Homo sapiens: one gene and its partner. The protein of the gene in region 1 interacts with the protein of each later gene in a pairwise test. Each region holds a gene or a part of one and is shown in the gene's direction. Other genes may lie near its edges.

The links.
Region 2: the proteins of SLAMF1 (region 1) and MAP4K1 interact in binary tests that used the Homo sapiens proteins (3 or more experiments, as listed by UniProt).

The regions. Positions count from the first base shown.
Region 1 is NC_000001.11:160,644,059-160,648,490, reverse strand, and holds the start of SLAMF1 (signaling lymphocytic activation molecule isoform b precursor), read left to right. Parts: upstream 1-1,446; 5' UTR 1,447-1,545; coding exon 1,546-1,621; intron 1,622-4,432.
Region 2 is NC_000019.10:38,586,951-38,590,675, reverse strand, and holds the end of MAP4K1 (mitogen-activated protein kinase kinase kinase kinase 1), read left to right. Parts: intron 1-1,400; coding exon of another isoform or gene 1,401-1,498; intron 1,499-2,858; coding exon 2,859-2,928; 3' UTR 2,929-3,035; downstream 3,036-3,725. Other genes in the region: RYR1 (ryanodine receptor 1), read right to left, coding at 3,256-3,351. UniProt on the Homo sapiens protein: Serine/threonine-protein kinase, which plays a role in the response to environmental stress. Appears to act upstream of the JUN N-terminal pathway.

The DNA.
Region 1 (4,432 bases):
AAAATAGAGCTACCATATGATCCACAATCTCACTGGTAGGTATACACCTAAAAGAAAAGAAATCAGTATATTGAAGAGATATCTGTACTCCCATGTTTATTACAGCACTATTCACAATAGCCAAGGTTGGAAGCGACCTAAGCGTCTATCACCGATGAGTGGATAAAGAAAATGTGGTACATATACACAATGAAGTACTATTCAGCTAAAAAAGAATTAGATCCTGTCATTCACAATGACATGGATGGAATTGAAGATCATTATGTTACGTGAAATAAGCCAGGCACAGACAGACAAACTTTGCACGTTCTCACTTGCTTGTGAGAGGTAAAAATTAAAACAATTGAACTTGTGGGCATAGAGAGTAGAAGGATGGTTACCAGAGGCTGAAGGGTAGTGGGGGTTGGGGAAGAAGTGGGGATGGTTAATGGGTACAAAAAAATAGAAAGAATGAATAAGAACTAGTATTTGATAATACAACAGTGTGACTATAGTCAATAATAATTTAATTGCACATTTAAAAATAAAAATATAATTGCACTGTTTGTAACACAAAGGATAAATATTTGAGGTGATGGATATCCCATTTACCCTGTGTGATTATTACATATTGCATGCCTCTATCAACATATCTCATATACCCCATACAAATATATGCATACCCCATACATATATATATACATACACACACACACACACACACACACACACACACACACACACACACATATATGTATATCTACTATGTACCCACAGACGTTAAAAATTAGAGGAGAAAACACACACACAACAAGGAGACTGAGCTGGAAGGATGGAGCTCTGGGATAGATTTGTCCTACATCCCTGCCTGGGAGGGAATCCACACACATGCAAGAAGACAAACTAGGAGCATGGGCTACTAAATTATACCACATTGCACTCATCGGGGTCACAGGGTTTCTTCCAAGTGACCCGCACATGCCCTTCCCATCTCTGTGTGACAGTGGCACCTGCACCAGACTGCATGTTGAGGTGTCATCTGAAATTATGAAATAAAACAGAAGTAAGAGGTCTATTAGCTCATCAAAATGCAGTTATCTAAGTTCAGCTGTGAACTGCCAAATTTGAGGAGTGATCCAATGAAACATCTTTTCTTTGCAATCCAAGAAGACTTACCGGAGAGAACTGCTCAGAGAATCTGCAACATCCGGTTCCTGGAGACAGCTAAGGAAAGAAGCTGGGGCGCATGTTTCTGCCCAAAGCCGGGTTTTGGCCGAGGTGACTACACACCCCCTTTCCTGGCTCCCATAGGCTAAGTGCCTGGCTTCTTGAGAAGCCTGCTTCTTGAGAACAAAAAAGTGATTTAAAGCCTCATGGGAGATGAGCAATCCTCAAGACACAAGCAGAAAAAGTCCCAGTGATACAGGAAGCGGGTTCAGGAACCTGCTGGTTCCTGATACATAAATCAGACAGCCTCTGCTGCATGACACGAAGCTTGCTTCTGCCTGGCATCTGTGAGCAGCTGCCAGGCTCCGGCCAGGATCCCTTCCTTCTCCTCATTGGCTGATGGATCCCAAGGGGCTCCTCTCCTTGACCTTCGTGCTGTTTCTCTCCCTGGCTTTTGGGGCAAGCTACGGAACAGGTGAGTGTTCATCTGCCTGATGGTTTGAGTCCCATGTTAGCTGCCAGGAATCAGCGTATCTTCGTGGATGGAGAGAAGGTGCAGGGCTGGGTATTGTGTTTGGTCACTCTTCCTTAGGGACTGGCTGTCAGTTTCAACTGCCTCTTTCAAAGAGGAAGGAACATTATAAGTTCCTGGGCCCTTGGGTTTCCAAGACTCAGCCCCACCAACCCCAGTTTCCAAGGAAATGAGGGGCTCTAAGCCAAAGGCTCCAGTCACTTTTCTGACCAGTCTTAGGGTGACAGGCCCTGGTAGAAGTCTTGCTTGAGTGGTTGGTTTTACATGGGCATCTTCTGGCAAAGACCCAGCCTAGAGAGACTGAGCTGGATGGACTGAGCTCTGGGAGAAGATTTGCCCTACATCCCTGCCCTGGGAGGGAATCTGTGCACATGCAGGCTGACAAACCAGGAGCATGGGTCAACAGAAAGCATTGGCTAGAGTGGGAAGAGAGAGTAGAAGTGAAAACTCCAGGCTTTTGGCTGAGAACCAGCAGTGGCCACAGTGCGGTCATACTGGTGTGTATTTTCTTGGAAGAGAAGGTCCAAGAAAGCAAGAGGGAAGAAGTTGGGATTTCTGAAGGCTAGGGCTGGTTACAGTATGTGGGAAATGCAAATTGGGAACCCTCAGAGAGTAGCTCCAGCAGGAAGGCCAGACAAGAGCTACCTTTGGATCTGGACTCTGTTCCTGTCTTTCTGTCTATCTTCTTCCCAAGGCAGGCTATTGCTTTCTGTTTAGAAGTATCAGGGCTATGAGAAAAGGTATTTGAGAAAGAAAAAGCCAAGCAAGAAGTGGACTTTGGACTGCCTGTGTGAGTGGGGTGAGAATCTCCTTCTGCTTATTTGTTTAGACTGTGGGAGGTAGCCTGGAGTAGAAGAGGTGGCATTACGGACACGGGGGGAAATCCTGAGGCCCAGGGTGTTTTAAGCTTGGGGTTTTCAAGACCGCAAATCCAATATGGACTTTTCCAGGAAAAGCACCGTGATATGCCAGGGATGTGGGGGTGCTGCACAATGGATGTGTCTTTTACCAGACAGCCAGACGAACAGGGCTTGCTCAGCCCACTTTCTTTTGGAATCTGCAGATCCATGGCTCGTACTTCCCAAGGTCTAGGGGAGGAAGAACTGAGCTCGGGGCTCAGAAAACCAAATCGAGCCACTTTAAGTGGTCACAGGGAAAGCCAAGCCTCCGTTGTTGCAACCAATTTGTGACTGCACCATTTCTGGAGCACCTCTTGGTGACTGTAAGGTGTGATGGAGTGATGGTGCTGAACTGTGAACTGGACTTTTCCATCTCTGTGCTTGCTAGCCTCTTGGCCAGCCTGGCCCATAGCATCTTAGGCACTGCTGACCAATAGCTCGTCTTATTGAGGCTTTGGAAGTCGCCGGTCAGGGAGAAGCAACCCAGCCCCACAAGGCAAGTCTATCCAATCGGAGGCTGCTCACTTCATTGCATGTTTTCTTCTTTGAATCTTCACAAAAGTTTTTCAGTGTTTTTATTTTTAAATACACACCCTTTTGTGAAGCCCCAATAAAACCCAGACAGAAATGCTTTGCAAATGGGGCAGGTTAGTCATGACAGATTTGCCCAAGCAAGAAGCTTGATTCTTGTAAAACTGGCATCCACTCCCATTCTCATTTCTACTCAGCTCAACTTCTAATTCCCAGTCAGAATTGTAAAAATCAAAAAGTCCACATGTCCCTTCCCCAAGTAAAGTGAATTTTTCATTTCCCCCGATGAGATTTGTTTTAATAGACTTTATTTTTTAGAGCAGTTTTAGGTTCACAGCAAAGTTGGGCAGAAAGAACAGAGATTTCCCATATGCCCTCTGCCCCATACATACATAGCCTCCCCTATTATCAATATCCCCCACCAGGATGGTACATTTGTTATAATTGATGACCTTATGTCAATGAGTTTTTTTTATTCCTCCATGCAGTTCCTCTGCACCCCCTTCACACACTTTGGGGGAAGGTGAGGGACAAGTGCGTGGGTTCTAGACTTGGCCTAACCTTGCGTGTTCAGTGGCCCATTCTATCCCAAGATGTCAATCTAGGCACTTCTATTTCTCAAAAATATTAATACTGTGATGTGATGCTGTCACTTTCACTGTCTCCCTCACTGGACTGGAAATCAGAGTATCAGGGCTAATTGGTTTAATCCATAGATTTGACTTTGAATGATCCCATTCAGCAACTATTAAGGACACATGATGTGGCAGCCACTGTGCAAGGGTGCAAGGTGTGGGGAAAACAAAATGAACAACAGCCACTGCCCAGCACCTGACACTGTGTCTGTACTGAGAGCCTGTCCACAAATATTTGTTGAGTGAATAATACTGGTATATACTGCATACTTGCCATATACCAGGCACTGTTCTAAATGCTTTATGTGTGTCAGTCATTTCATTTTCACACCAACCCTATAAGAAATGTATGTATTATTGGTACCATTACAACTTTATAAATGAGGAAAGGGGCACAGAGTAGTTTAGCAATTTCTCTGCGCTCACATAGCTGCCTGACTCCAGAGGCCTCAATGAGTAAAACTGGACAAGCCTATGTTTGGGAAGCAGGGGTGGAGAGAATGCCAAAATTTGTATCCAGGTCCCATGGTAAAAATTAGAATGTGCTATCTATAATTGAAAAATATGAGTTGAATTGAATTGGAATAAATTGAAGTATAGAAATGTCCAAAAGGTGAGAGACTGATAAAAATCACAGAAGAACGTAGAGGGCATATAAGAAGTATTTGACCTGGAATTTGGAAAATGAA
Region 2 (3,725 bases), on another chromosome or scaffold:
TGGAGAAACCCCACCTCTAGTAAAAATACAAAAATTAGCTGGGTGTGGTGGCACGTGCCTGTAATCCCAGCTGGGAGGCTGAGGCAGGAGAATCACTTGAATCGGAGAGGTGGAGGTTGCAGTGAGCCGAGATTACGCCACTGCACTCCAGCCTGGGTGACAGAGCGAGACTCTGTCTCAGAAAACAACAACAACAACAACAAAAAATTTCACCCGTTGTCCTAGTGACGCCCGTGATTATATATATATATATATATATATATATATATATATATATATATTTTTTTTTTTTTTTTTTTTTTCTGGTCCAAGATCATAGGTGGCACTTAGGAGCCATGTTTCTTTATAATTAAGCCGGAAAAAATAATTAAAACTTCTTTTGTCTTAAAGGAGCTTTGACCTTTTTAAAAATTAAAGGAAATTTGTTTTCTAAAATGTCCCTTAACTGTGTTTGAGGTTTCCACGTTCTGAATTTTGGGCAGGAATACTGCAGAAAGATGTCTTTCTCAGTGCATCATTTCAGGAAGTACACAATGCTAGTTTGTCCCATTACTGGTGATATTAACTTCGGTCATTTGGTTAAGGTAGAATCAGCCAGTTCTCTCCACTGTGAAGTTGCTTTTTTCTCCCTTTTTCTTTTTTTTTAAAGATAGATTCTCTCTCTGTCACCCTGGCTGGAGTGCAGTGACGCGATCATGGCTCACTGCAGCCTCGACCTCCTGGGTTCAATCAGTCCTCCCACCTCAACCTCCCGGGTAGCTGGGATGACAGGCGCGTACCACTACACCTGGCTTATTTTCGTATTTTTTGTACAGACAGGGTTTCGCCATGTTACTTAGCCTGGTCTGGAACTCCTGGACTCAAGAGATTCACCTGTGTAGGCTTCCCAAAGTGCTGGGCTTATAGGCAGGGGTCACCGCACCCAGCCTCTGTTTTTCTTTGTAATAAGAAGTATCCCACCGGTCGGGCGCGGTGGCTCACGCCTGTAATCCCAGCACTTTGGGAGGCCGAGGCAGGTGGATCACCTGAGGTCGGGAGTTTGAGACCAGCCTGACCAATGTGGAGAAACCCTGTCTCTACTAAAAATACAAAATTAGCCGGGCATGGTGTTGCATGCCTGTAATCCCAGCTACTCGGGAGGCTGAGGCAGGAGAAGCGCTTGAACCCGGGAGGCGGAGGTTGCAGTGAGCCGAGATCGCGCCATTGCACTCCAGCCTGGGCAACAAGAGTGAACTCTGTCTCAAAAAAAAAAAAAGAAGTATCTTTTGGGGAGATTCACTGAGACGAGGTAAATAGTCTGTAAATACGTTGTTTCTCATCAGATTTTCACCCACTAGTTTTATTGTTTTTTGTTTGTCTTTTGTTGTTGTTTTGAGTCAGAGTCTCACTCTGTCCCCCAGGCTGGAGTGCAGTGGCACGATCTCGCCTCACTGCAACCTCCTCCTCCCAGGTTCAAGCAATTCTCCTGCCTCAGCCTCCCGAGTAGCTGGGATTACAGGTTTGAGCCAACGCACCTGGCCTGCCCACTAGTTTTAGAATCAATTGATTTTTCCCTGAATCTATTATTGTTAGGTGGCTACTAACAATAAATGGTGATTTTCTGATTCTATGTTTCCTTCTGCGTGTGTTAGTTGGCATTCTACTCTAAAGAAGAGCTGTGTCTTCTCCATTCTTCTTTCTTTATACCAGCATGGTCTCATGGATTTTTATTCTGTGGGTTATAGTCTATTACTGTCATTATTTATTTATTTATTTATGAGATGGAGTCTCGCTCTGTCACCCAGGCTGGAGTGCAGTGGTGTGATCTCAGCTCACTGCAACCTCTGCCTCCCAGGTTCAATCGATCCTCCTGCCTCAGCCTCCCGAATAGCTGGGATTACAGGCGTGCACCACCATGCCTGGATAAATTTTTTTTTTTTTTTTTGAGACAGAGGCTCGCTCTGTCGCCCAGGCTGGAGTGCACTGGCGCTATCTCGGCTCACTGCAAGCTCTGGCTCCCAGGTTCACGCCATTCTCCTGCCTCAGCCTCCCGAGTAGCTGGGACTATAGTGCCTGCCACCACACCTGGCTAATTTTTTTTTGTATTTTTAGTAGAGATGGGGTTTCACCGTGTTAGCCAGGATGGACCTGGATAATTTTTGTAGTTTTAGTAGAGATGGGATTCACCATATTGGCCAGGCTGGTCTTGAACTCCTGACCTCAAGTGATCTGCCCCCCTTGGCCTCCCAAAGTGCTGGGATTACAAGCATGAGCCACCATGCCCGGCCTTGTCATTATTTATTTTGAGGCACAAATGGTCTTAAATTTAGCCAGTGGGAACCACTTTAAGTAGCCCCTGTGTCCTTTTGACATGCCAGAAGGGTCACTTTAAATCCAAATCTGATCGTGTCACTGTCTCCCTGCTTAAAATCCTCCCATGGCCTCAAGATAAAGACTCAATCCTGGCCACAGCCCACAAGGCCATGACATCTCCAGCCAAGTCCCAGCCTTTCTCCCACCTCAAATCCTTTGCACAGGCTGTTCTCCCCAGCCAGAACACTCTTCCTTGCCCTTTCACCAAGTTCCCTCCTAACCCCCCTTCAGGCTGCACCATCCATTCTCTGGGGAGTCTGGGCTGACCTCCTGGGTTAGGTTTCCCTGCCAGACATGCCATGCTTTTTTGCACTCATGTAATTCACTGATTCATGTTGATCTCCTTCTCTAGAATGCAAGCTTCCTAAGGGCAGGGACCGTGTCTGCCCATTCACTGCTATAGTTCAGCATGGGGCTGGCACAGTCTCTATTAACTACTTTGTGAATTAATGAATCAATGAACATATGAATGAATAAATGAACTGACTTATCTCTTCCTTCCACAGGCCTGTAGTGGTGGAGACACGCCCAGTGGATGATCCTACTGCTCCCAGCAACCTCTACATCCAGGAATGAGTCCCTAGGGGGGTGTCAGGAACTAGTCCTTGCACCCCCTCCCCCATAGACACACTAGTGGTCATGGCATGTCCTCATCTCCCAATAAACATGACTTTAGCCTCTGCTGTCATCTTGTTTTTCTTGGGGGAAACAATTCCTGGATGTCCACTCCTCCAAAATTTCAGCAGGCCAACACAGTGATGCTGGGGGGCGTAGCACAGATTTATTTTCCAGTACTAGGTCACCTCTCCCCCAGCTGCCTTAGGGGGAGGGGCTTGGGGACTAAGGGGCTTGCTGTGAGAATAAGGCACTTGAGGTGGGGGTGGAGGGCCAGCTGGGGGTGTGTCAGCTAAGCTGGTCCTCATACTGCTTACGGAAACAATCACCAGCTGGGAAGAAATCCCAACATCTCTCTTGGTACATCTTCCAGACATAAGACTCCTAGGATTGGGGATAGAAAGAGTTCATTGGTCACATCTTCAAACCCTTGAGACATATATATATATATATTTTTAGACAGGGTGTTGCTCTGTTGCCCAGGCTGGAGTGCAGTGGCGACAATCACAGCTCACTACAGCCTCCTGGCTCAAGCGATTCTCCACCTCAGTCTCCAGAGTAGCTGGGACTACAGGTGCACACCACCACCCCTGGCTAATTTTTTAATAGAGAAAGGGTCTCGCTGTGTTCCTAGGCTGTCTTGAACTTCTGGTCTCAAGCAATTCTCCCGCTGTGGCCTCCCGAAGTGCTAGGATTGCAGGCGTGAGCCAGGACGCCCAGCCCAAACCCATTTTTTTTGAGATGGAGTATCGCTCTGT